Linked DNA regions of Homo sapiens. The protein of the gene in region 1 interacts with the protein of each later gene in a pairwise test. Each region holds a gene or a part of one and is shown on either strand. Other genes may lie near its edges.

What was found.
Region 2: the proteins of UBL7 (region 1) and MYBPH interact in a two-hybrid assay, tested with the Homo sapiens proteins (one large-scale study listed by BioGRID and IntAct).

The regions. Positions count from the first base shown.
Region 1 is NC_000015.10:74,448,319-74,451,160, forward strand, and holds part of UBL7 (ubiquitin-like protein 7), read right to left. Parts: intron 2,542-2,842; coding exon 2,484-2,541; intron 1,752-2,483; coding exon 1,618-1,751; intron 1,358-1,617; coding exon 1,308-1,357; intron 1,036-1,307; coding exon 868-1,035; intron 283-867; coding exon 160-282; intron 1-159.
Region 2 is NC_000001.11:203,170,069-203,172,826, forward strand, and holds part of MYBPH (myosin-binding protein H), read right to left. Parts: intron 1,973-2,758; coding exon 1,884-1,972; intron 1,511-1,883; coding exon 1,315-1,510; intron 1,133-1,314; coding exon 993-1,132; intron 383-992; coding exon 223-382; intron 1-222. UniProt on the Homo sapiens protein: Binds to myosin; probably involved in interaction with thick myofilaments in the A-band.

The DNA of each region.
Region 1 (2,842 bases):
CCTTGCTAGGAACACTCTGCACCTGTCCCACTGCCATGCTCCAGCTGTTCCTAGAATGAAGCATGCCAGGTGTGAAGGACCGCCAGAGAGCAAAACAAAGGCTGGGCATCCAAAATAACAAGGAAGCCACATGGAAACCAAGACGTGGGGAAGACTGACCTGAAGGCTGGGCTGCCCAGAGGCCTGAAGGGCATGCTGTAGGGCTTGGCTGAAGAGATCATTGGTGATGGGCGTCCCTGACTGGACACCAGAGGACATTGGTGAGGTCCCTGAGGAATGACCCTAGAGACAAATTAGTGGTCAGTGCCACCCTCAGCGCCATCTCAATCTTATAGCAGATGCTCGCTGTTGTCATATCACCTCACAGCACTCCTGAGGTACCCAACTTCTGCCTCCCAACAAAGACCTGCCATAAGACAACCAAACAAAGGTAACTAGAAGCTCTCTATGTGGGCAGGAAAGGTTCCATTCTCTTCTGCACTGAGCCCCTTGTCCCAGCCTAGGACCCCAGCACTGCAGCACTGGGAGAGATGGCCTTGAAAGCTGAAGTGACTTGTCACCCAGAAATGCTTAAGCTGGTGATGTCTGCTCCCTGTCAGGGATGAGGAAGGGCATATTGTGTGCAGGAAGAGTCTTCTGAACTAATAGGGGGGACTACACGGGACCATGTTAAAATCTAGACTTCTGAGTCCTCAAGGCAAGTGAAGGGGAGGTCACTCAAGCTGCAGTAAGAAATCCCCACCAGGACTCCAGGGTTCAGCTTAAACTAGATCTAGCACCAGGGTCAGCAAAGGCAAATCTACTCTACTGCTGGGGAGCTTGTTCCTTGGGGGCCCAGCCTTGATCTTCCCGGCCCCGTCTTCATACCTGGGTGCCAGGAGTCGGTGTGTGAGAGCTGCTCTCCGGAGTGCTGGCCAGGGCCAAGGCGGTGGCCAGCTCACTCTGGGTGATGGGCCGGGGCCCAGCAGCTCCACTGTACCCCAGGGAGGCTGGGCGGGAGCTGGGAGTACTGCTAGAGGGTGTGGACCTGGTGTTCTGGAGAAAGAAGACACTCAGAATCAGGGAAGCAGTACTGTGAAACTCCCAGATGAACTCCACCCACCTCCAGCAATAGTTCTTGGGGAAACTCTTAAGTTCCCAGGTTCAGAAAGGAATCCAAAAGCAGAAATAGTATGACATGGTCTTGGCCCCCCAATGGCGTATGTCCATCTCCCAGCCTTGGGAGTGCCAGGTCCCAGGATGCAGCTCATTCCCAGCACCATCTCCCCCACATGTCAGCATGTCAGGCAGGCAGGCAGGCCACTTACTGGGTGAAAGTCATCCTCATCATCTGAGAGCCCTTCAAACAGGAAGCCACCTGGAGGAGGACGAACAGATTTCAGGAGGAAGAACAGAAAGGCACAGGCGCAGCTCCAGAATCTCAGCTCAAGTTACTCTCCAAATTCATATTTTCATCTCTCCCCTCGGAAAATTACAGGACAGATGCACTTCCTGACTCAAACCGAGAGTTCCCAAGGAACGCCCTCTGCCAACGCTATACATAGCTGCTGAGTAAAGCAAATTCCTGGGCCACTGCCGGCTCCTGAGGGGCCCACATTACACTTTTCAGGCGCTCACCTGGCATATCCCGGTATGAGCTGGAGGGCATGCTCCGGGAAGAGGAGTCAGTCCCAGGCATTGGGGCACTGCCTGCTACGGAGTGCAGAACCAGGACAATGGCATTGACGAGGGCTGGGTGAGCAGGCACCAACCTAGGATAGAAGCAGGAAGAAACCCAAGGGTGACTCCAAAAGAGCACCCTCAGCCATAACAGGAGTTCTGGGTGCCCCCTCACAACAATGCAGCCACCTGTGCCTGCTCTCAAATTCCTCAGTCTTTAGCATCTTCCACCAGGAAGCTTTATCCTCCTGCTGATCTGCCCCCAGCAACGGGTGCAAGGCCTTCAAATTCCTGGGGTCCGCTGCAGATTCTTCACCCTCTCCACAGGCAAGGCATGATGGGAAAGGTGCAGCCTGGGAGGCTCAGGGTTCTGGCCTGAGCACATGAGGAGTGTCTGGTCTAGGCACCACTACTACATCAGGCAACCCTGGACTGGTCCCTTCTCTTCCCAGGGTGGGGCTGTTTTCTTCACTTGCAAAATGAGGACATGTCCCTTTTAGCTTTGACACTTTACGGATCTGTACACCTGCTTCTCCTTTTGCCAGCTTAAAATCCTTGAAAAGCTCCCTAATTTCTACCACACGAAACCTAAACTGAGCCTGGCAGACAAGACCCTTTCCCTCAGAATCCTGCTTCCTCCCAGCACTCTTGACAAAAGCCCTGCTCTTGGGCTTTGCTCTTTCTCACCCCCTGACGTATCTAAGGGGTAGACTTGGTGACAGACTATGGATGGGCTCCCAGAGCAGACTGCAGGGTGACAATTAGGCTTCTGGCCTGAGCACGAGGAGAGAGAAGGTACCCTCTAATAGGACAGGTACACTTACGTATCAAGCATATTGGGATCAGCGAAGACAGAGAAGAGGTCCTTGTCCTGGAGAACCCCTGAAAAAGAGCAGAGCTCACCTCAAAGAAAGGAAATCAGCCAGATCCAGGAGGGAGAAGAGGCTTTGCGTCTCAGAGCAACCAGCTCAACAGGGACACAGGACAACAAGCCAATCTTCATGAGAAGTAGAGGAAGCAAAGCGCCAAGCAATACAATTCAGGTACTCCTCATCTTGGTCTAGTGAGGATGGTCCCCTGCTCTCCACCTCCCCTGCACTTTAGTCACATCACAGACTGGGTACCAAGACACCTGTCTCTTTCTCCCGTATCTCTGGGTTCTTCCCTTACTCAGGGTGTGCAG
Region 2 (2,758 bases), on another chromosome or scaffold:
TTTGTGTGGATTTGCTCTGATGTGTTTGTTAAAATCAGCCAACCACATTCACTACTTTGCAGCCACTCCATGTGTGTGTATGCATAGCCGTGGAGTGAGGAGACGGCAAGTGTTCCAGGGGCAGACGCCCAGGAGAAACCCAGAGAGAGGGGTGCAGAGACGCGGAGGAAGAAGCAGAGACAGGGAGAGAGTTAGCACAGCCAGCTCCGGGCCCAAACCCACCTGCCTTCTGGATGTGGGCGAGCTCCTTGGTGACGGTGGCCGAGGTGCTGAGTCCACACAGGTTTTCTGAGAAGACCCGGAAGGAGTACGAGTTGCCGATGATGAGGTCAGAGATGGTGCAGGTGGTTGGGTGGTAGCGCTCCAGCACTGTGAACCATTGCTGCAGGGCCCCGGGTGTCACCCTCATTTCTCACCCCTGTCCTCACCCTCCCTGCTTACCCTGGAGACCTTTCCTCACAGGAACTCATTCCATGCCCCCAACCTTAGGATGCTGAACCATCCAGCTTTGGGCCTCAGGGACATTGAATTGGAAGAAGGGGCCCCTGGGTCACTCAGGTGACCTCTGTAGGGTCCTCAGAGAATCCTAGAGCCTTTGTGTGCAAAGTGTGGCCCATGGATGTGCAACTTCAGCATCACCTGGAAACGTCTTAGAAATGCAGGCCCTCAGCCCCCACCCTGGACCTACTGAGTCAGACTCTGCCTCTTAGCAAGCTCCCCAGGTGACTCATGTGGACATTAAGATTTGAGAAGCATGGCTCCAGAACTTGAAAGGCTTCAGACAGCCCGGGCCAGCCCTCTTCACAGTCTTCAGGAGGCATCTGAGGTCCAGAGAGGAAGAGTCTTGCTAAGGGCCTCCTAGGGAGTCAGGTTAGCAGTGGGCAGACCAGAACTCGATCCCTAGACTCGGTCCCTAGACTCAGTGGGATGGGCCTTCCCCACCACCTTGACCACTTCGTACCCCGACCCCACTTTGCCTCAGCCAGCCTCACCCCTGTCTTTTTGTCTGCCTTCTGCACCATGTAGCCCAGGAGCTCTGTGTTGCCTGTGTCCTGGGGTGGCGTCCACTGAAGAGCAGCATTGCAGCCCCAGACGTCCAGGAGCCTGATGCTGCTGGGGGGTCCAGGTTTCTCTGTAGGCCCAGAGTGTGAGAGGAAGTGAGTGTGAGGGCCAGGCTGGCCACAGAGCCCCCACACCCAAAATTTGGCTCTTGCCACACTCCCTTGGCCTGCTCCCATCAGCCATCAGCTCTGGGATAGGAGGTTGGGGGCTCCAGGTCCCCCATGAGACAGCACTGTTCCCCTGGCTCCATACCAATCACCAGGATGTCAATGACTGCCTTGGCCTCCAGGTCTTCCACGCGCACAGTGAGCTCGTAGCGGCCAGAGTCGGAGCGCTGGGCCGAGCGAATGAAGAGGATGGAGTCCTGGTCCCCGGTGCGCATGCTCACCCGCTGGCTGTCCAGGGCATGGCCGTTGTGGGTCCATGTGGCCTGAGGCTTAGGCTTCCCCTGGCAGGGAGGAGCCCCCAGGGTGAGTGTAGGGAGGTGCCAGAGTCCCCACACCTCCTTAACTCCAGGAGTCTCTGGAGCTGTTCTCGGGGAAGCCTGTCCCACTGGCCCTTCTCAGGAGGGGCAGCAGAGGCTGGAGCCACAGGTGCTGCCCACAGCCACATCTTCCAGGTGTCCATCCCGCTCTGGGGGCCCACCTGCCCATCCACAGGCTGAGAATCACCAATGAGTCATGTGCATGATTGCGGAAGGATGAAGCCGTCTCGCTGGGTCTCAGCTGGACCCTTGGAGACCCTGCCATCTCCCAGGCTCCCCTTAAATGGGGGCCCTGGTTCCCACCCAGGCTGTTACCCTTGGTGGGGGTAATACCCACCTGGAAGGGGATTTGCAGGTTGACCGTCTCTCCCACCTGGCGGATGTAGGTCTGACGGAGGTGGCGGGGGACACGGATCTTGGGGGCCTCTGGATCAAAGCAAGAGTCTGGGCTTAGCAGTGCAGTGGGGTGGCTGATTGGGGTTTCTGAGATGGGGCAGGGGACAGCTGGTGAGGGATGCTGGCTGGGAGGAGGGTCCTGGGTGTGCCTGGCTGCCATGGGGTCCCTCCTTGCAGGAAGGGTGAAGCTCTCACTCCTGAGGTCTAGGGGCCCAAATCCCTTAAGGGAGCAGGAGGTTTCAGGAGGTCAGCGCCTCCATGGTGTGAACTGGTAAGCATCCTGGGCACTCCCTTGGCGCCTCGACTCTGCCAGGATGGGATTTGTCCTGCAGCCCAGGCATTCCCAAGCACCAGATGGGCCCCAGCTGACTCTCTGTCTCCCCCTGCTGGGGAGCAGGTGCTGCACCTGTCAGGCTGCACTTCTAGGAAGGGGAGGCCACTGCCGTCTTCCTGCTCTAATATCCCCAGCTCTCCACAAGCCCAGGACTTTCAGAGAAGCCTTTGTGAAACCCTGTTTGTCCATTCCTCTGTCTCCAGGCCCTATTGAAAGGTTTAGGATCTTTCTCTTCCCAAGTGAAGCCAGGGCGGGTATCCCCCCTTCTTCCTCTGTCACCCTCCCAAAATCTGTTAGTCTCAGAGCCGGGAAGTCCTTCTTGAAGTCCTATTTCAGCTGCCTGCTATGCTAAGGAATGACATTCTGACCCTCATCTGGTCAGGGGCAACCACTGAAGCCCCTGGGCATTCTAAGGGAAGCTGCAGTGGCCACCATCCCTGTCCCCTGGGGTGGGTGCTGGGTCCATGACTGAGGCTCCTCAG